Linked DNA regions of Homo sapiens. The protein of the gene in region 5 purifies or fractionates together with the protein of the main gene of each other region. This does not show direct contact. Each region holds a gene or a part of one and is shown on either strand. Other genes may lie near its edges. The genes, in order: EIF3CL, MRPL19, ITIH3, DCTPP1, MFSD6, FNDC3A and THUMPD3.

Region 1 (3,500 bases), on a different chromosome or scaffold from region 5:
ACACTTACTGAACTGGGAACAGTGACCCCGTGACTGAGGCCCAAAGATGGAATTGCTAGTGGGAGGTGTGACTGGAGCAGGAAGATGACAGAACTGTCTGGGGTGGAGGGGTGGGGTGGGCTGATGGCTGGACAGCGTCCATGATTGTTCTCTCACTTCCCTCTCTGTCCAGAACCCCGAGCAGTCTGCGGATGAAGATGCTGAGAAAAATGAGGAGGATTCAGAAGGTGAGCCAAAGAACCTTTGTTGCAAATAGGAAGTCCAGAGTTAGTGTTGCCCTTCGCCTGGTTTCTTGGCTGCCCTCCAGTCTGGCTTTTCAACATTCAGGATCTTTTTCTCCCTCCATTACCACTAGGCTCTTCAGATGAGGATGAGGATGAGGACGGAGTCAGTGCTGCAACTTTCTTGAAGAAGAAATCAGAAGCTCCTTCTGGGGAGAGTCGCAAGTTCCTCAAAAAGATGGATGTAAGAGCCAGGGTTAGATGGATGATTTCCTGCCAGAGGTAGTTCCTGAGTCCCTGGGGGAAAAAGACAAGACTCAAACCCCTAGGGTTGGGAGGGGTGGAATTTAGTGGAGTTGAGAACAAGCTTCCTCTTACATCAGAGCAGTGGGCAAACAGGGATCTGGGCCCAGCTCTGCCAGGGGAAGCTGTGTGTGTTCCTGCGGCCAAATTGCAGCATCACTCTGGGACTTGATGGTGAGTCCCAGCCCTTGGTATCTTGATTCCATGAGTAGCTGCTCTTGTTCTACTCATGTAAATAAATCTCGAACATGCGTTAGTAAGGAGGAGACACCAGTCAATCTCCCTGTCTTCTTGCTGATCCTCTTTTCTTCCCTCTAAGGATGAAGATGAGGACTCAGAAGATTCCGAAGATGATGAAGACTGGGACACAGGTTCCACATCTTCCGATTCCGACTCAGAGGAGGAAGAAGGGAAACAAACCGCGCTGGCCTCAAGATTTCTTAAAAAGTAAGGAAAGTAGTGGGACCTAGGGTTACACTGGAACTGGTGGAAAGCTCTTAATTGTCTGGAAGGTTATTGATTCTTCCATGGAGTCCTTTTAGGTTGGAGCAGCCAACTGTTAGCATTTTACAGTAGGATCAGAGAGTCAAGTACATTAGTTGGCTAAAGTCACGAAGCTAATGTGTCCTAAAGATGAGAATTGAAGGCTCCAGAGTCCAAATATTTACCCACAGCCTTACTCACTGCGTGTGGATTGGGTGCAAATCTCACTTTGGCACCCGATACCTGTGTGACATTGGACAAACTACTTAGCCTGTCTAATCTTCAGTTTTCTCATCTGTAAAATAAGGCAGGGAACCCTCCCTTCCAGAATAGCTGCAGGAATACAGGGAGGTGTGATGTAAGAAAGTAGTTCATCTAGGACTGACGTGTGGTGAGCCCTCAGTGTGCGTTGCTACTGTGTTACCCTTCCTGATAACTTCTTAGTACACATACAGCATACAGACTGCCGCAAGTGTTCATGACCTTTACTGGGACAGTCAGAATAGGGGAGGATCCCAGTGTGGATTCTGTCTCCCAGCCTTTATCAGCTGTACAACATTGTATAAGTTACTTGACCTTAAGTCTTAGTTTCTCCCTTTGAAGTAAAAGTGATACCTGCTCTTTTGTATCCCATGGGAGTGAAATCTCAAGCTCACTAAAAATAGTGCTTTTATTTATTTTTTCTTAGCCAGTTTGCACAAACTACAGATAAAAAGTGCTTTTTTTGAGACAGGGTCTCACTCTTCCCAGGCTGGAGTGTAGTGATGCAATCTTGGCTCACTGCAACCACAACCTCTTGGGCTCAGGTGATCTTCCCACCTCAGGCTCCTGGGTAGCTGGGACTACAGGTACACTCCAGTACATCCGGCTAATTCTTGTGTTTTTAATACAGACAAGATTTCACCATGTTACCCATGCTGATCTTGAACTCCTGGGCTTAAGCGATCCTCCCGCCTCAGCCTCCCAAAGTGCTGGGGTTATAGGCGTGAGCCACTGCACCCAGACAAATAGTACCCTTTTAATGGGAAGATTATTGCTCTCAAGGTTGCTTTCCTGTGTTTAAAAGTTGTGGTCGTGCTGCTTTAGGGAGGTAGTGAGTTTCCAGCCCTCTAGAGGTCTAGAGAGGCTGAACAACTTACTTGGTGGGCATTTTGTTGAGAAGGCCTTTTTTGTCCAGTGCTTCAGGGAACACTGGTCAAGGTCTGGGCCACATTGTCTATCACACCCCTTCTTGGAGGGTTTACAACCACCTCTGGAAAGTTCCATGAGAATAAATATACCTAACTTTGTTTTATTAACCATCTCAAAAACTTGCTTGATCATGAAACTCGTTTTTTTAACCTGTTGACATCTTACAGAACTATCAGCGTTACTATTGGTTCAGGTCTTTTATATCTACTGTACTTTGTGTTTTTGTCTTTGAATAATTGTGTATTGAAGTCTCCCATTGTGTGGACTCCGGTGTGTGATGTGCACTGCACATGTGTGTTACACAAAGGCTCCTGTCTGAGGGAGCAAATGGGGCCTAAAATTAAACTTAAGACATCAAGGCTGGGCACGGTGGCTTACGCCTGTAATCCCAGCACTTTGGGAGGCCGAGGCGGGCAGATCACGAAGTCAGGAGATCGAGACCATCCTGGCTAACACAGTGAAACCCAGTCTCTACTAAAAATACAAAAAATTAGCCAGACATGGTGGCAGGCGCCTGTAGTCCCAGCTACTCGGAAAGCTGAGGCAGGAGAATCGCTTGAACTGGGAGGCAGAGGTTGCAGTGAGCCGAGATCGTGCCACTGCACTCCAGTCTGGGCGACAGAGCAAGACTCTGTCTCAGAAAACGAAACAAAACAAAAAAAACTCTAAGACTATAAAGCTATACTTTTATAAATACAGACTCAAAAGTTCTTAACAACATAGTAGAAAACCAAACACAGCAACATACAATAAGGATTATATGGGAGCACCCCCTCCTTGCCTGTAGGGGGATGGAGGATGGGTGGGCTCATCTCCCAAAAAAGTTTTAAAAAAAAATTTAATAACAAGGAGGATTTATCCCAATAATAGAAGGATGTTTTAATATGAAAATCAACTAATATACTATATCAATAGAATAACAGACAAAAGCCGTAGAGTCATCTCAGCAGATGCAAAAAAAAGCATTTGAAAAAAATCCTAATATTCTTTCATGATAAAAGACTGAAGCTAGGAATAGAAGGGAGCTTCCCTCTACCTGATAAAGGATGTTTATGAAAAGGACGTTTCCTGTCCTTTTATTTTTAACTCTGCCATGCTGTATGATTAAGAGTGTTTCTTGGCTGGGCGTGGTGGCTCACGCCTGTAATCCCAGCACTTTGGGAGGCGGAGGCAGGCAAATCACAAGGTCAGGAGTTCGAGACCAGCCTGGCCAACATGGCGAAACCCCATCTCTACTAAAAATACAAAAAAATTAGCCCGGTGTGGTGGCCTGCGCCTGTAGTCCCAGCTACTCATGAGGCT
Region 2 (2,962 bases), about 110 Mb from region 5:
TAACTCATTTCTGTCAGTTCTGGGAAACACTTAGCATTGGTTGATGATTTATTCTCTGCTGCTTTGTTCTCCCAACTATTATTTGGATGTTGGATATCCAGCACTGGGTATCTATTTTCTTACCTCCCTCCCTTGACCCCAGTCTCTGTTTTTTAGCTCTTTAGCTCAATCTTCCAACTCTTTGCTATTGTATTTTAAAATCTTAAGACCCCTTCTTGATTTGTAGAAGTTCCTTTTCTTACAACCAAAAAGCCTTTATCTATGGATTTGTTCACAGATAAGGGGTATTCAATATAGTGTATTTTTTTTTCATTTAAAATTGTTTGCGCATCTATTTCCTCCAAATTTCTTTCTGTATTTATTTTTTGTTGTCTATATTTCAGACTTTTCCAGGATATCTGATAATCTTTGGCTGTCTTCTTATGGTTGAAAGAGGGACTAAAAAGCTTGGAAAGCCTTTGGGTTGTGGGAAGGGGCTGTCTTTAGGATTATCTGAATGGGCTTTTTTGGGAGTCCCCTCCTCCACATGAATATTTTGGTTTTGTCAGATTCCCTAGAATAGAGGCTTCCAATCTCCTTCCTGGAGGGGTCTGTCCAGGAAGGAGATTGTCTAGGGGTCTGTCAGACAGCAGCTTTCAGCTACTTCCTTGATCTTTTTCACTAATGATTATATAGTCATCTAACTACTGTCAACAAGTAATAGATATCCTATCCTTCACTTGTTTAGATTATTTGCTGAGATAACCTCTCAAAAGAACCTCTCAAAATAAAAGGTTAACAAGAGCCTATATCTTATATTTTTCTTCTCTTTATCTTGTTAGAAGATAGCTATTAAAACCTGTTCTTTTTCTGTCTTGATAAACACACTTCAATCTTGGTAGAATGGTAGATGGGACAGTATATTTTAGGACCTAAAGCTCTGCAAATGTATGATCAGCTTGTAAGTACAGGTGCTCAAAAACATGTAAACAATCATGCTTTTTACTCTGTAGGAATATCTTTAAAATTCTTGTGAATTTTTCCCCAGAAGTAAAGCAAATCTTCCCCCAGAAATAAAATTAAATGTGCATAATCTAAAGCTTTTTTTTTTTATTGTGGTAGGATATATATATAAAACATAATTTGCCATTGTAAACATTTTAAATTTACAAGTCAGAGGCATTAATTACATCACAATGTTGTGAAATTATTACTACTATTTCCAAAATTTTCTCATCACCCCAAACTGAAACTCTGTAACTGTTGAGCAATAACCTCATTCCTGTATCTCTCCCAACCCCAGGTAACCTCAAATCTTTCTTTTTATCTTTGAGACAAGGTCTCATTCTATCACTCAGGTAGGAGTGCAGTGGTGTGATCATAGCTCATTGCAGCCTCAAAATCCTGGGCTCAAGCAATCCTCCTTGAGTAGCTAAGACTATAGGCACACATTAACTGCGCCTGGCTGATTTTGTTTTTTGTAGAGATGTGGTCTTGCTATGTTTCCCATGCTGGTCTTGAGTTCCTGGCCTCAAGCAGTCCTTAAGATTCATCCATGTTGTGGCATGTGTCAGAATTTCATTTGTTTTTATGACTAAATAATATTCCATTGTATGTATATACATTTTGTTCATCCATCTTCTGATGAACACTGGGATATGTCTACCTTTTGGCTATTGTGAATAATGCTGCAGTAAACATTGACATAACAAGTATGTATTTGATTGCCTGTTTCTAAGTTCTTTTGGGTATACATCTTGAGTAGAATTGCTAGATAATGTCATGTTTTATTTCTCTTGTGATTTCTTCTTCGATCCCCTGGTTGAGTGTGTTAATTTCTACATGTTTATGAATTTCCCACTGTTTTTTTGTTATTGATTTCCAAGTTCATTCCATTGTGATTAGAGAAGATACTTAGTATGATTTTAATGTTTTTGAGAATTGGTGTGTGGCCTGATAGATGGTCTGTCCTGGAGAATGTTCCTCATACACTTGAGCAAAATATTTATCATGCTATTGTTGACTGTAGTTTTCTATATGTCTCTTAGGTCAAGGTGGTTTACAATGTGTTAAGGTTCTCTTTTTTTAAAAAAATTTTTGCACAGAGTATCTTTTTCTATGTGTTCCATGTATTTGTGTCTTTGGAGCTATAGTCTCTTGTAGACAGCATATCACTATCTTGTTTTGTTTTGTTTTTTCTGTCCATTCTGCCAATTTCTGCCTTTTGATTGGAAAATTTAATCCATTTGCATTTAAAGTAATTAAGGAAGGACTTTCTTCTACCATTTAACACTTCTTCTATATGTCATATACTTTTTTGGCCCCTCATTTCCTCTTTATGGCCTTCTTTTCTGTTTTTTTGTAGTGAACTAGTCTGATTCTCTTTCCACTCCCCTTTGTGTATATTTGTTAGATGTTTTATTTGTGGTTGCTATGGGGATTATAGTTAACATCCTACACTTAAAACAATCTAATTTAAACTGATACCAATTTACCTTCAATAGCATACAAAATCTCTACTCCTGTAAAGCTCTGCCCCTGCCCCCCTTATGTTATTGATGGCACAAATTGCCTAATAAATAATTTATAGTTATTTGTATGAGTTTGTCTTTTAAATCATTTAGGAAATAAAAAGTGGAGTTAGAAAACAGTATGATAGTAATACTGACTTTTATATTTGTCAATATATTTATCTTATTTTGGATCCTTATTTCATTATATAGATTTGAGTTACTGTCTAGTGCCCTTCCATTTCGGCCCAAAGGATTCCCTTATGCATTTCTTGCAGGGCAAGTCTAATTGTAATAAACTCCCTCAGCTTTTGTTTTATCTGAGAATGTCTTGATTTCTCCCTTATTTTTGATGGATAATTTTGCCAGATACATGAATTTTTGGTAACAGTATTTTTCTTTCAGCACTTTAAATATGTCATCCCACTACCTTCTGACTTCATGGTTTCTCATGAGATATTAGATGTTATAAA
Region 3 (2,251 bases), on a different chromosome or scaffold from region 5:
TGAGTGGATACGTGGGTGAACAGATGGTTGAATGGTGAATGGGTGGGTGGGTGAGTGAATGGATGGATGGGTGGAGGGATGGGTGAATGGATGGTGGATAGATGGATGGATAGATGGAAGGGTGGCTGACATCCCCATTTAGATGTGGGCTGTATCTGCACTGGAGTATTATCTACTTCTAAAGGTCCTGATTGGAGCTCCTGAGCCGGGACCATTTACTTATCTTATGACTTTCCTGGATACTGAAATACATTCAACCCTTCCTGACTTCTCAGAGCCCCTTTCCTTCAGAGTCAGTTCTTTATTTTTTCCCCCAAGCTGTCATACATTTGAATCCCTAAAGTTCTAGTCCAACCAACTCTGTCTCTCAGCTGTGTCAGTGGAGAGGCCCAAGAAGTTGCCTTCCTGCTAGCCATCCCCTCTTTTGAGCTGCTGTGGGTCCCAGTTGCCTGTTCCCTGGAGCAGAGGCTCATGAAGGCATGTAGAGGCTGGCAGCTGTCTGGTCTCGACCTTGGACTTTATTTTCCCAGCCCCTCCCACAGGCCCCTCTCTGTGCCCATGTTCCAGATGCCATAAAATCCGGGCCATCCATCCCAACAGGAGCTGGTGTGTCTACTCAAAACAGGTTGGGGACAATGTAGTCAGTGTGGACACCATCAATCAGCCCTTCTCCGTTGTTGTGGACGAACCAGCAGACAACCTTCGTGCCGATGCTGGCATCCTTTCTGTAGTCTTTCTGGGAGCCCCTGGGGAAAGAAGAGAGATGCTGCAATACACGGGGTGGGTAAGATGGCTGCTAGGCTAGCGGACCTGAGATTGAAAAAGGGTGGGAAGTTGGCAATTCTAACAGCCCAGAATTCTTTGGTCAAGAATGAAGTTACATGATTACTCTTTCGAGGAAGCCAAGTTTGGGCTTTTTCTTGATTAGCAAGAGCCTGGGAGGGGCCAAGACCTCAAAGGGAAACAAGGGTACCCCACAGAAGACAAAAGCCCACCAGACTAATGTGCCTGGGCTGCAGGTGCTCTTTCCTCCTCTCGTTGCTGAGCAGGTGAGGGTGTGGGAGAAGTCTCCTCACCTGGTGACAATCAGCTGATGGTTCTTCACCACCAATGTGGCATCTGGCTTTGTGGGGTCAGAGCCTGGCCGGATGTCAGACACTTTAAAGTCAAAGGGTTGGAAGAATTGCCCTGGGAAGAAAAATATTCATGCTGTCAGCCCCTGGCCATTGCCACGGGTAACGTGGCCACTGGCCTTTCAGGGTTGATGCAAAGGCTGAATGGGGTGTTGTGAGCTGGGTACAGGGTGCCTAGGAAGGCCTTGTGTATGTCTTTCCCATGCTGCTCTCAGGCCTGAACAGCCTGCAGTCTGAACACTTCGTACCCAGCAGCCCATGCGTCTGTGCTGACATCCGGTGACTGTCCACCACGTAGAAGCCTAGAAAGTCACGGTGGACAGGATGTTTCTTCCACACCTGGTGTAGGACGACCACGAAGGTAACCCCATCTCCAAAGGAGACCACCATGTTCTTCCTGTTGATCATCATGGACAGCCTACGAGAGGAAGCCAGAAAGTGGCTGTGGGGCCCAGTGGCCGTGACACTGGGCATCTGACTCAAGGGCGTTTTGGTGGGGCCTCCCCTGTACATGGCACCCGAGGGCCCACAGACTCCAGAAACTATCTCAGGGGCGTTGGAAAGAGGATGCCTCATGCACACTGTCTCCCCTCCCGTGAGTGGATCCTTGAGTGTCTATAAGTGGGAAAGAGAGGGCTGGCCTATGAATCTGGAGGCCTGTGGTCCAGCCTCAGCTAAGCCACTGACTTCCTGAGTGACATTGGGCAGGCTCCACACCTTCTCTGAGCCTCAGTGGGAGGCTCTGGGGGATCTGAAGACAGGAGAGCTAAGAAGACAAGAGCAGCCACAGAAGAGGCAAATGGGGGCCATTATCACCTAATGCCTTCACCCAACCAGCTGAACTGTGCAGCTACCAATTCTGGCTCTGATAGGGCCCCAGGGTTTGGTTGGGGGCCACTATGGTCACCCTCCCCTGTGACAGGAGACTGGATTCTGGGGTCTCTGATCTTTCCTGTGACCCCCATGGATCTCCTGTCCTGGGATTTTTCTAAATCCCTCAAGAGCCTCCTTAGACTCTCACCCTGTAGTCCACCTTGGAGACCTTGTAGGGGAGCTTACCCATCCTGCGTGACTGTGACTGTGTCCAGCCAGCTGAAAGTGCTCGGCACGGCCCTGTT
Region 4 (3,916 bases), on a different chromosome or scaffold from region 5:
ATAAAAAGGCAAACGACTGGGCACGGTGGCTCAGGCCTGTAATCCCAGCACTTTGGGAAGCCAAAGTGGGCAGATCACCTAAGGTCAGAAGTTCAAGACCGGCCTGGCCAACATGGTGAAACCCCATCTCTACTAAAAATACAAAAAAGTAACCGGGCGTGGTGGCGGGCACCTGTAGTCCCAGCTACTCGGGAGGCTGAGGCAGGAGAATGGTGTGAACCCGGGAGGTGGAGCTTGCAGTGAGCCGAGATCACACCACTGCACTCCAGCCTGGGCGAAAGAGTGAGACTCCGTCTCAAAACAATAAAAAAAAAAGCTGGGCGTGATGGTGGGCACCTGTAATCCCCGCTACTGGGAGGCTAAGGCATGAGAATCGCTTGAACTCAGGAGGCAGAGGTTGCAGAGAGCCGAGATCATACCGCCGCACTCCAGCCAGGCCTACAAGAGCAGGACTCTGTCTCAAAAAAAAAAAAAAAAGGAAAACAGGTAATAACAGTAACTGCAAAACTTACCAAGTGTACTTTACTATGTGCCAGGCCCCGCCCTGAGCATTCACATAACTCATTGAAACCTCACGACCCTATTGGGCAGGTACTATTCTTTTTATTTGATAGACAAGGAAGCTGAAGTGCAGAACGATTAATTTGAGTAATGTCATTTAGCTTGCAAGTGTCAAAGATGGCATTTGAACCCAGACAGCCTGGCTCCACCATCTGGACTCTTACAGCCTTCAATCTCTAAGAGGGGGAAGGAACTTACATGACATCCTACTGGGAATTTGCTAGAAACCAGATCTCTCTGCCCTGCAGGCAAAAGGTACAACAGGGAAACACGAGAATGGGTCTCAGAGGCACCCCTGGTACCCCCGTCATCACCTGCTGAGACAGAGAGCCTCCCTGGCCATCCAGGAATAATCTAGAAGTTATCGCCCAAAACCATTTTACTGGGAGAACAAACACCAGGAGGCTACCTTCTAGAGGCTGCTGGGCCTCAGACCTCAAGAAGTGGAGGCCTCAGGCCCATGATCTATTCTGAAAAGACTAGAAAAAGGCTCCAGGGCCAGGCCACTCTCTGCTCTTCAGACACCACCCTGAGTTGCAAGTCCTGTGGCCATCTTTCTAGGTTGAGGTCTGGCCTGTGGAGTCACAGGGAATGTCCGCAGGCCCCACAGCCTGGTCTTCAGAGATGGCCCCATGGGGCAATTCTGTATACTTGCGGGAAGAGCTGCGGGCCAGATGGGCTGGGTAGCGTCGCCGGTTGATGTCCATTTTGGAGAGCACTGCTAGCGGCAGATCCACACGGCAGCGGGCTGCTAATGCCACCAGGTAGATGAGGACGTCACTAAGCTCCTCTTGAAGGGCTGCCCGTTCCCTGGGGGACCAGCCTTGGGGGCCAGGTTCCCCATCGGTTTTCCACTGACTAGGGGCAGAACACAGACAGACACACACTCAGATGTAACCTGGGGCAATGGGCTCTGCCAGTCCTTGCAGTAATAACACCCACCTCCAAGGACGACCTAACCAATCTGGGCCCTGGGAAGAGTCAGGTGGGGAAGAGACCCCGACAGATGATACCAAGATGTCTGTGTCTCTCCCTGGGCCAAGGAGTGGCCAAAAGAATGTTTCATCTGTTGAGACAAAGCTTTGAGGCCCAATTCTAATTCTCTCCAGCCCTAGCCGTCACCACCACAGACCAAACCTCGGACCTGGACCACTGCAGAAGCCTCCCCACTCATCTCCTGGCTAGCTCATCTTCTACTCCTGCCCAGACCATCTTTTCTATTTTTTGAGACGGAGTCTCGCTCTGTCGCCCAGGCTGGAGTGGAGTGCAATGGGGCGATACTGCAACCTCCGCCTCCCGGGTTCAAGCGATTCTCCTGCCTCCGTCTTCCGAGTTGCTGGGATTACAGGCATGTGCCGCCATGCCCGGCTAATTTTGTTTTTCTAGTAGAGACAGGGTTTTGCCATATTGGCCAGGCTGGTCTCGAACTCCTGACCTCAGGTGAGCCGCCCTCCTCGGCCTCTCAAAGTGCTGGGATTACAGGCATGAGCCACCGCACCCGGCCCACACCATCTTTTAAAAGCACAAATCAGGCTTGGCGCAGTGGCTCACGCCTATAATCCCAGCACTTGGGGAGGCTGAAGCGGGTGGATCATGAGGTCAGGAGTTCAAGACCAGCCTGGCCAAGATGGTGAAACCCCGTCTCTACTAAATATACAAAAAAATTAGCTGGGCATGGTGGTGGGCACCTATAATCCCAGGTACTCAGGAGGCTGAGGCAGAGAAATTCTTGAACCCAGGAGGCAGAGGTTGCAGTGAGCCGAGATCGCACCACAGCATTCCAGCCTGGGAAACAGAGCAAGACTCCGTCTCAAAAAAACAACAAAACAAAACAAAATGAAACAAAAAAAATTGGCTGGGTGCCATGGCTCATGCCTGTAATCCCAGCACTTTGGGAGGGTGAAGTGGGTAGATCACCTGAGGTCAGGAGTCCGAGACCAGCCTGGCCAACAAGGTGAAACCCCATCTCTACAGAAAATACGAATTAGTTAGGCATAGTGGCGCATGCCTGTAATCTCAGCTACTTGGGAGGCTGAGGCAGGAGGGCAGAAGAATCGCTTGAACCCGGGAGGCGGAGGTTGCAGTGACCCGCCATGACGCCATCACACTCCAGCCTTGGTAACAGGAGCAGAACTCCGTCTCAAAAACTAAACAAAACAAAACAAAACGAGACCCCACAAATTGTATTTTTCCCCTTCTCTGCTAAAATACAAACTGTGCTTGGAATACAATCTAAACTCTTGACAAAGCCCTCCTGTCCTGCATGGGCTGACGCCTGCCTTTTCCAATGCCACTGCCCCCCACTCTCACTCCCCGCCTAAGGCCACTTTGGCTTGTTCTGCCTTGCACACAGGCCAGACTGTCACAGGCCTTTTGCATTCACTGCTCCCTCTGCCTTGAATGCTTCCCCATCCCCCATCATTCCCAGGGCTAGCTCCTTCCTGTTATTCAGGGCTCAGCCTAGATGTCACCTCCTGGCTCGTCACCTTGTGTGTTTTTTGTTTGTTCGTTTTTGTTTTTGACAGAGTCTTGCTCTGTCGCCCAGGCTGGAGTGCAGTGGCACGATCTTGGCTCACTGCAAGCTCCGCCTCCCAGGTTCACGCCATTCTCCTGCCTCAGCCTCCTGAGTAGCTGCGACTACAGGCGCCTGCCACCACACCCAGCTAATTTTTTGTATTTTTAGTAGAGATGGGGTTTCACCGTGTCAGCCAGGATGGTCTCGATCTCCTGACCTCATGATCCGCCTGCCTTGGTCTCCCAAAATGCTGGGATTACAGGTGTGAGCCACAGCACCTGGCCGGTTTTTTTTTTTTTTTGAGACAGAGTCTTGCTGTTGCCTAAGCTGGAGTGCAATGGCGTGATCTTGGCTCACTGCCAGCTCTGCCTCCCGGATTCAAGCGATTCTCCTGCCTCAGCCTCCTGAGTAGCTGTGATTATAGGCGCCTGTGACCACACCCGGCTAATTTTTGTATTTTTAGTAGAGACAGGGTTTCAGCCTGTTGGCCAGGCTGGTCTTTTTTGTTTTGTTTTGTTTTGTTTTTTGAGACGGAGTCTTGCTCTGTCGCCCTGGCTGGAATGCAGTGGCACAATCTTGGCTTACTGCAACCTCTGCCTCCAGGGTTCAAGCAATTCTCCTGCCTCAGCCTCACGAGTAGCTGGGACTACAGGGGTGTGCCACCATGCCCAGCTAATGGTTGTATTTTTTAGTAGAGACAGGGTTTCACCATGTTGGCCAGGCTGGTCTTGAACTCCTGACCTCAGGTGATCTGCCTGCCTCGGCCTCCCAAAGTGCTGGGATTACAGGTGTGAGCCACCGCACCTGGACCTTTTTCGTTGGGTTTTTTTTTTTTTTGAG
Region 5 (3,500 bases):
TGGTGGTTGTCAGGGGATGGGACAAGGGGTGAGTGTAAGTTATGGTTTAAGGGGTACAGAATTTTTGTTGTGGTGGTGAAAAAGTTCTGGAGATGGATGGTGGTGACAGCTGCACAACACTGTGAGTGTACTCAGTGCCACTGAACCGTACATTTAAAAATGTGAAAATGGTAAATTTTTAATGTATGTTTTCCCACAACAAATCTTAAAAATAGGTGCCTAGTTAAATAATTCACATTTCAAAACAGAGTAGCCTAAGAAATGCTAACCAACTAATCCCTCCTGCTCTTCTTCCTCTCCAGGAGTGACACACGCGGCCATCTGGGCAGCATGCATTTCTTACCTCAGTGCAGCCGTTCCCCCTGAGCTGAGGACATCTGCTCAGGGCATCCTGCAGGGCCTTCACCTGGGTTTGGGAAGAGGATGTGGTGCCATGATCGGAGGCGTGTTAGTCAATTATTTTGGTAAGAATGGCTTTCTCCTTTTTTTTCTTTTCTATTATTAAAACATGATTTTTTCCAGCAATACCTCAATAAACAATCCAATTATTACTGAAGATTGCCCAAAGCTAAATTCCAGTATTCATAATCTCTTTCTAGATTTCATGGTAGTCATAATTGTAAAGCAGTGTGCTTACGTTGTTAAGCTGATCTGAGCCAGCCTGTAACTGTGCACACTCCTCTGACAATCAGCTTAATGAGATGCTACAGAGATCCCTCAAAGGAGCCAAACAAATGAATTAGCATGAGTGCTTTTGGTCTAAAATAAGGTACCTTAAACCTGCTGATAATAACCCTAAAGGAAATAAAATTCATCATTGTTATTCCATTAGGAGATTTTGAACCAGAAGAATCTAACCATATGCTGGCTTTGGTAATGCTACTACATTTATGGTAACAATATCTGTCTGTCTTGTCATATCTTCCTTATTAGAAACATAGGAGCTGAAATAGGAATGAGATTATTCTGCTCCAGGAATCTTAACTACTCAGTCATCTATTAATATATAAGGTGGGCCCCAGGAAATGCGTGCATTTATAGCACTATTTGAGCACTGCTGTTCCAACTACAGATTAATAGTGCTGTTAGTTAATAATTGGGTAAATGGTCTTTTCATATGAAGAGGAGAGCACCATTGAATTGTATGAGTCATGGTGAAAGGCACTGAGAGATAATCCTATATAAATGCAGTTTTATAATCGATCAATGACAGATCCAATATCAGCCCTGGGTCTCTTGACACGTACCCAGCCCTGTGTTTTTCCATTATGTGGAGCTAATACCCAACTACTTTTCTCTGGTTTGTCTCAAGCTGTGCTTCCTTTGCTTTGATCTTTAGAAAACTGATGGTTTTAGATGAGCGCTATCTGCATTTCTTGGAATTACTCTATAGAGTGCTGTTTGTTTTTATAGGGGCTGCTGCAACCTTCCGAGGAATTGGCATGGCCTGCTTGGTGATCCTACTGCTCTTTGCCCTGATCCAGTGGCTGGCAGTGCCAGATGAGGAAGAAGGTAATTATTTCCATTCTTTCTTAATATTCCTAACAGTTCAGGCCATGGGAAGTCAACAAATGCCCCGAGAAGCCTAGAAGTGGTACAGAGTATACAACAGGTCTGTTTGGCTCAATTTTCTGAGTGGCGTATCGATGAATTCATGTGGACTATTGTTAAAGAGATCCACCTACTATGCAGAAAAAATATTGTTTTAAGTAGCTTGGGGTTTTCTTGTTTTTTGTTTGTTTGTTTTCTTTTATAATACAAGGTACTAGGGAAGTATTAGTTTTCAATTTCTCTGGTATTCTAAAGGTTTTTCAAATTTAAGTCAAATACATATAAGGCTATACAGTCATTTTGCTACTAGGGATAGGGAGTGAGTGGTAATCTTCTCTATGACTTACCTTCATTTGTTAAAAAAAAAAAAAACAATGGCCGGGTGCAGTGGCTCACGCCTGTAATCCCAACACTTTGGGAGGCCGAGGCGGGTGGATCACGAGGTTAGGAGATCAAGACCATCTTGGCTAACACGGTGAAACCCCATCTCTACTAAAAATATAAAAAATTAGCCGGGCACGGTGGTGGGCGCCTGTAATCCCAGCTACTCAGGAGGCTGAGGCAGGAGAATGGCGTGAACCCAGGAGGTGGAGCTTGCAGTGAGCCGAGATAGCACCACTGCAGTCCAGCCTGGGGGAACGAGCAAGACTCCCTCTCAAAAAAAAAACAAAAAACAAAGACAAAAATGTCAAGACCTGAAATCTGAAGTTTTCTCTGAACCAGGGATGCCTTTATTAAGATTGTTCTACCAAAAGGAGGTTATATCAAATATTAATATGTAGATGAGAATGAGCTGACTCAACTTTTTATGAAAAAGGTCAACCAGGAGGATGAAAATATTTTTGCTCAGTTTTTTGGTCCCAGAACAGAGCTCATCTTCTTTGGGTGTCCTATCCTTTGCGGAGCATTAGCCTCAGGCCCCTGAAATGCTTCTGTGAAGAGAAAAACTTGCTTGTTACAGAAGCCTCAGAGACAGATTTTAATCTCAATGAGTTACTCAGAAAGAGCAATACTGTTTTTTCTTACTTTTGTTCTTTTATAATCCTAAATGGATTCTCTCTCTTACACAGCCTCAGTCCATGCCTCATGTAAAAGACCAATAAAAATAACTATCATGGCTCTCCCAAAGTTATAAGATGTAGTTAAAGTTGTATTTTGAGAAAAATGTATGGACTTGAATATCTTTGCTATTAATCACAAAAAAATTTAAAATCATTAATTAAACATTCAATGTAAGAAACATAAAAATAAGCAATCAAATTTTAACTCATCTTTGATTAGTGAGAATATGGTACTGGGTTAGTTTTTAAAATACTTGTGTTCTGGAGAGACTGTTATTGGGAAAATGGCAAGATAGGAGGCAGGATTAGGTTGCAGCTCACACTCAGGTGGACCGAGTAGCATGTGGAGACTTGCATCATGCTTTTGCTCCAGAACTACTGCAGGAATATACCAGGAAAGCTGAGAGAATACACAGACCCTCTGAAGGAAGCATATTGCTCCTGGAGGACCTGAGAGACAGGCCAAATATTGGGCTGGTATCCAGCTGAGAGACCTAAAGATGGTTCACATCACAGGACTCTATGCAGACAACCCCAGTACCAGCCTGGAGCCTGGTAGCCCTGCTGGGTGGGCTAGATCCAGAAGAGAAATGACAATCACTACAGCCTGGCTGTCAGGAAGCCACATCCCTCAGAAAACAGGGAGAGTACTACATCAAGGGAACACCCTGTGGGACAAAAGAATTGAACAGCAGCCTTGAGTGCCAGCCCTTCCCTCTGCCATAGCCTACCCAAATGAGAAGGAACCAGAACAACAATTCTAGTAATATGACAAAACAAGGTTCTTTAACCTGCCCCAACAAAATCACACTAGCACCAGCAATAGATCCAAACCAAGAAGAAATCTCTGACTTCCCTGAAAAAGAATTCAGAAGGTCCATTATTAAG
Region 6 (4,242 bases), on a different chromosome or scaffold from region 5:
TCTGATAAAATCCTCATACTTTGAAACAATATACAGTTATACTTCAATTATTCCAAGATCAACTTGCCAGCTGTCTCGAAGAGGGCCAAATCCAAAAGTTAAGAAAAGGAAACATCTCTCACAGGGAAAGAACTTCTGATAGTGAAGAGCAATGAAAATATCTCAAGATACCACTGCCCTATTTACAACCAGAAGAAAAGAAACCTCTCATTAGCTGGCTGTGGACATAAACATCCCATCAATCTTCACCTGGAGCCGCAGAGAAAACCAGCCGAGAAAGGAGAGAAGAATGAAAAATAAACAGTAAAGCAGAAAGAATAAGAGGAAGGATCAGAGTGGATAGAGGCAGATGAGGAGATGAAAAGCAGTGAAGGATTTTAGAAGAGGTGATGAGAACATTCCAAAGAGGGAAAAAAAGAGAGCACCAAAGTAGGGATTCTATACACCGCAGCAATCCTCTGGGACTTAAACGTATGGCCAAGATATCGGTTTGAGAGTCAGTTATCAACAAAGGATTTAATTAGCCATTGTATTCTTTAAGAATATAGAGAATAATCACATTTTAAAGAGATTTCTGTAAAACAGTTTTAAAAATACAGCTATTTTAAAAGATCGCACAATTAATACACTGAAATAAAGCCCAGACATGCAACTTGTTACATCCATCACCATTTTTGAAAGGACAGTTCCTGAGGCTGGACTCACCGGCCCAAGTACTACCCCCTCCCCAGGTCTCCGGCGGCAACTGTAAGTCAAAAGCCCTCAGGCATTATTGCAGCGTCCCACATTGTTTGAGGTTCCAGGAAGTCGCTGCTACGCTCACTTGTAAGTCTTCGTGCTGTTGTAAAAATTGAGGTCGTGGTTTTCCACGCGATTTGGCTGGCGAAGAGACCACGAAGCCACCCCCCACGTTTTCAACTGAGTAAATATCTAAATATTTTTGCTTGCTATCCAGATCCTGGGTTCGAAGTCTTTGGGATTAGAAACTTCCAAGCCCATTTCAGAGGCTTCCTAGTCCTTGGGAGGAGTGTCTTTTAAAGCACCTGCCAGCCTTAAGTTCGCGTGCTTTCGGAAAGGGGCCGACAGGGTGCGTCTCAGGGGAGCCTTTTGAAATGTGGATTGAGAATTGTGTGAGTGTCTCTAGGAACCTCCATTAACTCCACTTTTCCTGAGTGTAGCTCCGAGCCTGGCCACAGCGGATGCTACCACAAGCCAGGCGCAGCCGGGCCTCGGGAGAAAGCCGGAAGCCCGAGAGGGTGTGGGCGCTCCGGGAGCCAAACGCGGCCGCTCAGCCGCCACGCGCCGGTGGCCCCGCGGGGACTCGCGTTCCGGTGAGAGAGCCCCGGCGCGGCGGGCTCGAGGCGGGGGTTCGGGGTCCCGGCCGCGGGCTCCGTCGGCGGGGCCCGCGCAGCCGCACTCGGCGCGCCGACTTCGGGCTCCTCCTCCCGGCTCCGTAGTAAGCATGGCGGCGGCGGCGTTCGTGGTCCCTCGGGTGAAACAGAAAGCGGGAGCTACGCGGAGAGGGAGCGAAGAGCGGGGCTGAGGCGGCGGCGTCACTGCCAGGAAACAACCCCAACAGTCAGCGCGCCGGCGGCCGCGGCGGCCCTGAGAGCTGACTCTGCAGCTGAGGTAGAGAGACAACGATCAGGAACCCTAAGAAGAGGCGCCAGAGGAGCCGCCTTCTGCCTCAGAACGGCGTGACTCGGAGGTGAGAGCGCGGGCACTCCCTCCGCGAAAGGCGGGGGACACCGAGCCGTCCCAACCCCGTCCCGCCCCGGAGGAGGCGCCGCGGAAACCGTTAGGCTGGGACTGAGGGCCGGGGCACTCTCCAGGGCTCGGCCCCGTCGAGGGGCGCGGACCACCCCCTTCTGTGGGCGCGCTGTGGGCAGAGGTGCAGAGGGGCAGTGGGGCCGGGGACAGGACCGGTCTACTAGTCGGGCACCTGCCGGGGCCGAGCCTAGCCAGGACACGCTTGCGGGGGCGCGGCCGGGGGCGCCATCCAGCCCAAGAGGAGGCGGCATCTAGCCCGAGGGAGGTGGCGCTGGTGCGCGGGCGGCCCTTCTCTCTGTCCCCCGCCTCCTCCCCGCGGCGAGCCGCGTAGCTCCGGAGGGCTCGGGGGCGGGGGCGGGGGCGGGGGCTGGGGCGGAATCCTCCTGAGAGGATCGCCCAGCACCCGCGGCGCCTTCGGCTTTGGCCGCCCGGCAGCCGCCGAACTTGAACGCTTTTCTGAAGAGAGTTTTCCCCGCTCATCTTGGGGTTAAAACCTCGAAAACCCGCCCTCTGTTTGATCCTGCGTGGCTGCTTCCAGTACCTGGCAGTTCCTCTCCCCGGGCGAGTTAACCACCTGTTCAGTCGGGAGGTGGACTCGAGGCTGCAGTCCTCGCCCGGTTTTAACAACCTGGATCTTCGAACTTTTGACACGGCTTTGGAAACGACGTCATGTGTTAGGTAAAGGAAAATGAACAGATAATTTCGCTGTCAGATTGCGAGCAGAAGAGGGACTGTTTTAATGGATGTGGTCGTTAATTGTTCTTTTATTCAACTGTTAGCGTTACAAGCCTTGGGATATTTTAGAGGGTGGAATGCGATGATTTGCTGGGGGTGCTAGAGATTGTGAATTCGAGATTTTCTTTTGTGAGATTTTACGTAAGTTCCTTTGGACACCTTTGTGTCTGACCATCTATTAAATAAGAGTCGCAGGCTGATGAGATTTTTTTTTTCTTTTTGCGGTATAATCATTATGTGTTCACTATGGGTTTTTAAAACCGAACAACGTAATTATTTTGCTTCTTACTGTGGTCTGTGTTTTTTAGTTCTTGAAACCAAAGTGTGTATGCTTCTGTATTGTAGGAATGAAATAACAGTTGAACTCTTACTATAATATTTTATCACCATGCTGTTACCAGCTCCAGTACTAAACATACGCCACTCAGGAGTTTGAGCCATATGTTAGGCAGAAACGAATTGAGTTTTGTGGTTCTGATCTTATGTTTGGATAAATATTTAGTTTTTGCGTATTTACTAACTCTTGTCATCTTGTGTCACCCACAAATGTTCAAGTGAGTTGAATCCCCTGTCTTTTGGATATTTTCTTGGTTGAATTAATTTTTCTTAAGTAATGAGATGAAGTACTCACTGAGACAGATGGTGGCCCAACAGAAAACAGTGATGAAGGATTTTTACCACATCTTTTATGAAATATAACCTGAAATGTTGCTTTTAGCTTTGTAGCCTACTAATCTTGCTTTCTAATCACACCAGTTAGTGGGAAGAAGGGATGATGACAGGAGAAACATCTTGTTAAAATTTTAATATTAAATCTTATATTTAAATTTTTTAGCACTACTACATTAAATTTTACTATATTGTCTTGTTTCATTTCATAGATCATCTGTTAGTTTTCTATGTGTAGGTTAACTGGAAAATTTTTTATCCCAGGCTGGCTACCGTTAGCCACCTGTATGCTTCTGAATTAACTCCCTCTTTTTCCCTTTTGTCTGAATCCTCCAAATCATTGAATGCTCCGGAAAAATAAAATCCTGGTTAACACTGTCAAGCATAGTTATAAGGGTAATTAATTTATCCCAAATTAATAATAAGCATTAAAAAAAACATTCTAGGATTATCTTCTTTTGGTGACGTCTGTGTCTTCACTTCCTCTATCTGTGTGAGTAATTGAGACCTGATTTATTTTAACACACATGTAATGATTACTCTTTACTAGTCACATTTCTACAATATAATAGTAAGCATATTTTATTACTAATTTAAAAATTTCTCCCTCTTCCCTGACCAGCCAGACATAGCTAAGGGCTGAGACATCCTTAACCCCCCGAAAAAAAGAGGGAATGCATGATTCATATTCTCATTGTCTTTTGTAGTTTTAGGCAAAGAGCATTTAATTTATACTTTATCAATTTTTAGTAATATTTGCGCTGTTTTAAAACATTTGCATTTTTTAAGATGTTCATGACATCCAAGGCTTGTGTATTTTATAATCTGCCAGTATTTTTAAAATACAATTTGATGAAGTAACCAAAAACGTTTTTTTTTTGAAACATTGTTGGTGCATTTTTGAATGAAAATGAATCTAGATCGTGTCTTTGAGAATGGTGTAGGGATATGCACATGATTTCCAATTTTATTAGCCAGATAACTAAGTGATTAGTGTTTCTGGTTTTTTTTTGTTTGCTTTTGTTTTTTTTGTTTTGTTTTTAGCATTGCCTAGCGGACTTCAAATAA
Region 7 (3,500 bases), on a different chromosome or scaffold from region 5:
ATCTCAAATATTTTCAAACCGCATTAACTTAGAATTTAGTGTGCCAGACACTGCTGGATGAGGAACTGAATAAAATACTAGACCTGACCTCAGAGAGCTCCCAGGTTAGTTGAGAGGCATAAAGGGGAAGAAATAATTAACCGTGGGACAAGTGCAGTGGCAGAGGTACGTACATACAAAGTGTTTTTGGGAGGGGCACATAAGACTGCTTGGAGAGTTAAGGTTGATGTTGAAAGGGCATGAGGTTTGAGCTGGGTCTTAAGAGATGGGTAGAGGTTCAGCAAGCAGAGAAAGAATAAGAGGGCATTTTCAGCCAGGGAAATAGCACAGTTGACAACATGCAATGTTTTGCCACTCTAGAAAAGCACTGGATTTTCTTTGTTTGTTGACAATTTAATCATATTTTACAGTTTGCTACTTTTGTTTTAACATACACTCTTATCTTTTAGGGGGCCACTGAATGGTCTGACTGTTTCCATATTGCTGGTGATAATAATCCACTGGCTGTGAATAGAGCAGCAAATAACATTGCATCTTTATTGACCAAGAGCCAAATTAAAGAAGGGTAAAAATTTAAAAGATTTCTTAGCATCTTTTAGAGTTAGAGAATCACTTTTTATATTGACTTTATGAATTAAAACTCCCAGTGCATTGTGACGTCATTGTAACCAAAATGAATATACTATGAGACTCCATTTACATTTTTAAAGTTTATTGAAAATAAGTTATATTTTTAAAATATTATTTTAGCGATAATTTCCCCACCATATGCAATTTTTCATTTGTCTTATTCATATGTCTTTTCCCCTACATATTGGAAGAATATTTTATAGACTCATTTTAATTTCACAAAATTTTAAACAGTATATTTTTACATAGGCTTCTTTTTTGCTTTGGGTACAGGGTCTCATTTTGTCACCCAGGCTGGAGTGCAGTGACATGATCATGGCTCACTGTAGCCTCAACCTACTGAGCTCAAGCAATCCTCCTGCCTTGGCCTCCCTAGTAGCTAGGAATACAGGCATGTGCCACCATGCCCAGCTAATTTTTTAAAATCTTCGTAGAGATGGGGGTCTTGCTGTTTTGTCCAGGCTGGTGTCAAACTCCTGGCCTCAAGAGATTCTGCCGCTTCAGCCTTCCAAATTGCTGGGATTAGAGACGAGTCACCACACCTGGACCATAGTCTTTAAAGTCACTACATAAATTCCATCGTATAGAAATACTGCAGTTTATATAGCCTCGCCTCTATTTTATTACTAAGTCATTGGTTATATATTTCATTGTCTCTCTGATCTAATTTTTTAGGACAGTGCTTCTCAAACATTAATGTACATGTGAATCACCTAGGAGTACTGTTAACACAGATCTGATTTAGTAGTTTGGGATGGGACCTAAGAGTCTGCATTTTCCAGGAAACTCCAGGACAATGCTGATGCTGCTGGTCTATGTATCAACATTAAATCCTTTTACGTGTATTAAGACAAGTAGTTGGAAGGCTTCAATTTTCTTAAATACTGATTTATTGTGATGAATTAATTTTGAATGGTTGTTTCATATTTATTGAGGGTTTTTTTTAATGAGCCTAGTATATGGCCAGTCTTTTTTTTTTTTAATTAAAACTGATAAACATTTAAACAAACGTACCTTTCTAGCTTCTGAATATTTTATCTTGTTTGTACCTACACTGTCTGTTCAACCCGTACTTTTTTTTTTTTTTTTTTTTTTTTTTTTTTTTTTTTTTTTTGAGACGGAGTCTCACTCTGTCGCCCAGGCTGGAGTGCAGTGGCTTGATCTCGGCTCACTGCAAGCTCCGCCTCCCGGGTTCACGCCATTCTCCTGCCTCAGCCTCCCAAGTAGCTGGGACTACAGGCACCCGCCACCATGCCCGGCTTATTTTTTTTTTGTATTTTTAGTAGAGACGGGTTTTCACCATGTTAGCCAGGATGGTCTCAATCTCCTGACCTCATGATCTGCCCACCTTGGCCTCCCAAAGTGCTGGGATTACAGGCATGAGCCACTGTGCCCGGCCTCAACCTGTACATTTCTATCCATTTTACTTTGGTTTTTAATATTTTTTGCCTTTTGTTTTGTGCAGTTATTGGTATGCGGTTATAATACATATTTTATGTGTACTTTTAAAAATTATGTAATGATTGCTTTTATTGCATTTTTTTCTTAAATTCTTCATTAAATGTCAATTAAATCCTTAATTTCTGCTGATAACCTTTGACTTATCTTCAGTTCTTAGCCTGTGCATTATTTTGTTTCTTAAACCAGTTGCTTTGCCTTAATGAGGAGGATTTAAATCCTTTGTATTTATTATTATTCATTCTGTCTTCTGTCATCTATATTTTTTATCTTAACTTTTTTCTTAGTCTTGTTTTATATAGCATGGCACATATTTTCCTTTTGGTTTTTCATCTTGAAACAATTACCTATATATTTGCCAATTTTACTATCTGTTTTTCTTTTAGGCCTCCTGTTATTACTAGTTTTACAAACTTTATTCTTCAGATACATCACCCCATTATCTATTCTTTAGTATTGTTTTTCTCCAGTGTATGTTTTATCAGCAACTTAAATTTTTGTATCATCGGTTATGTAATTTACTGCTTCAGCATTGTTTTTAAAGTTGTCTTTTGCAGTTCTCTGCATTACAATCATGTTTTCAGTTTGTTTCCCTTTTTTCTGAGACGGGGGTCTTGCTCTGTCACCCAGGCTGGAGTAAAGCGGCACAATCCTAGCTCACTGCATCTTTCAACTCCTGGACTCAAGTGATCCTCCCACCTCAGCCTCCTGAGTAGCTGGGACTATAGGTGTGTGCCATCATGCCCTGCTAACTTCTTAAAAAAGTATTTTAGAGACAAGGTCTCACAGTGTTGCTCAGCTGGTCTCAAATTCCTGGAGTCCAGTGATCCTCCCACCTCAGCCCCTGAAAGTGCTGATTATAGGCACAAGCTACCATGCCCAGCCTGACCTATTTTTTACCTTTGTGCCATTTCTTAAATTTTGAATAGGTTGATATTATCACTGATATCCTTAGCAGTTTATGTTTTGCTGTAGCAGTCTCTCTTCAGAAACAAAAATTGTTGTAATAACTTTATGCTTCACAGTATGTTGAAGCACCTTTCCTTTGTCCCCACAGCAAACCCTCCTGGGGCTTGCCCATAGATGCTGTTCAGTGGGATATCTGCAATCTGCCATTGAGAACTGGCTCTGTGGATATTATTGTAACAGATTTGCCATTTGGAAAAAGGTGAGAAATACTAGTACCTGCTTGTCTTCTAAATATGTCATTATTTTCCTTGCGTTTATTCTAAGTCAGGAAAAAAATCTTGAATTTTAGCAGACTTAGCAGAGCTGTTTTTCACTTAACAACATGATGGATTCACCCATTATGTTTCTTCCGAGAACTCAGGAATGTATTAACTACATTTGGAATCCTGACCATCATGGGAGGTTCATTTTTAAATTACCTGTAATTCACTTTCTAGCCCATT

What was found.
Region 1: the proteins of MFSD6 (region 5) and EIF3CL purify together in Homo sapiens (affinity purification with mass spectrometry; one large-scale study listed by BioGRID and IntAct). This does not show direct contact.
Region 2: the proteins of MFSD6 (region 5) and MRPL19 purify together in Homo sapiens (affinity purification with mass spectrometry; one large-scale study listed by BioGRID and IntAct). This does not show direct contact.
Region 3: the proteins of MFSD6 (region 5) and ITIH3 purify together in Homo sapiens (affinity purification with mass spectrometry; one large-scale study listed by BioGRID and IntAct). This does not show direct contact.
Region 4: the proteins of MFSD6 (region 5) and DCTPP1 purify together in Homo sapiens (affinity purification with mass spectrometry; one large-scale study listed by BioGRID and IntAct). This does not show direct contact.
Region 6: the proteins of MFSD6 (region 5) and FNDC3A purify together in Homo sapiens (affinity purification with mass spectrometry; one large-scale study listed by BioGRID and IntAct). This does not show direct contact.
Region 7: the proteins of MFSD6 (region 5) and THUMPD3 purify together in Homo sapiens (affinity purification with mass spectrometry; one large-scale study listed by BioGRID and IntAct). This does not show direct contact.

The regions. Positions count from the first base shown.
Region 1 is NC_000016.10:28,397,342-28,400,841, reverse strand, and holds part of EIF3CL (eukaryotic translation initiation factor 3 subunit C-like protein), read left to right. Parts: intron 1-172; coding exon 173-227; intron 228-355; coding exon 356-465; intron 466-843; coding exon 844-971; intron 972-3,500. UniProt on the Homo sapiens protein: Component of the eukaryotic translation initiation factor 3 (eIF-3) complex, which is required for several steps in the initiation of protein synthesis.
Region 2 is NC_000002.12:75,656,783-75,659,744, forward strand, and holds part of MRPL19 (large ribosomal subunit protein bL19m), read left to right. Parts: 3' UTR 1-2,962.
Region 3 is NC_000003.12:52,807,047-52,809,297, reverse strand, and holds the end of ITIH3 (inter-alpha-trypsin inhibitor heavy chain H3 isoform 4 preproprotein), read right to left. Parts: coding exon 2,193-2,251; intron 1,713-2,192; exon of another isoform or gene 1,576-1,712; coding exon of another isoform or gene 1,552-1,575; coding exon 1,382-1,551; exon of another isoform or gene 1,349-1,381; intron 1,189-1,348; coding exon 1,077-1,188; intron 781-1,076; exon of another isoform or gene 747-780; coding exon 617-746; 3' UTR 501-616; downstream 1-500. UniProt on the Homo sapiens protein: May act as a carrier of hyaluronan in serum or as a binding protein between hyaluronan and other matrix protein, including those on cell surfaces in tissues to regulate the localization, synthesis and degradation of hyaluronan which are essential to cells undergoing biological processes.
Region 4 is NC_000016.10:30,423,115-30,427,030, forward strand, and holds the end of DCTPP1 (dCTP pyrophosphatase 1), read right to left. Parts: intron 1,420-3,916; coding exon 1,119-1,419; 3' UTR 501-1,118; downstream 1-500. UniProt on the Homo sapiens protein: Hydrolyzes deoxynucleoside triphosphates (dNTPs) to the corresponding nucleoside monophosphates. Has a strong preference for dCTP and its analogs including 5-iodo-dCTP and 5-methyl-dCTP for which it may even have a higher efficiency.
Region 5 is NC_000002.12:190,488,355-190,491,854, forward strand, and holds part of MFSD6 (major facilitator superfamily domain-containing protein 6), read left to right. Parts: intron 1-302; coding exon 303-464; intron 465-1,413; coding exon 1,414-1,512; intron 1,513-2,259; exon of another isoform or gene 2,260-2,464; coding exon of another isoform or gene 2,465-2,483; intron 2,484-3,500.
Region 6 is NC_000013.11:48,974,470-48,978,711, forward strand, and holds the start of FNDC3A (fibronectin type-III domain-containing protein 3A), read left to right. Parts: upstream 1-1,442; 5' UTR 1,443-1,708; intron 1,709-2,192; exon of another isoform or gene 2,193-2,448; intron 2,449-4,242. UniProt on the Homo sapiens protein: Mediates spermatid-Sertoli adhesion during spermatogenesis.
Region 7 is NC_000003.12:9,380,054-9,383,553, forward strand, and holds part of THUMPD3 (tRNA (guanine(6)-N(2))-methyltransferase THUMP3), read left to right. Parts: intron 1-449; coding exon 450-565; intron 566-3,145; coding exon 3,146-3,256; intron 3,257-3,500. UniProt on the Homo sapiens protein: Catalytic subunit of the THUMPD3-TRM112 methyltransferase complex, that specifically mediates the S-adenosyl-L-methionine-dependent N(2)-methylation of guanosine nucleotide at position 6 (m2G6) in tRNAs.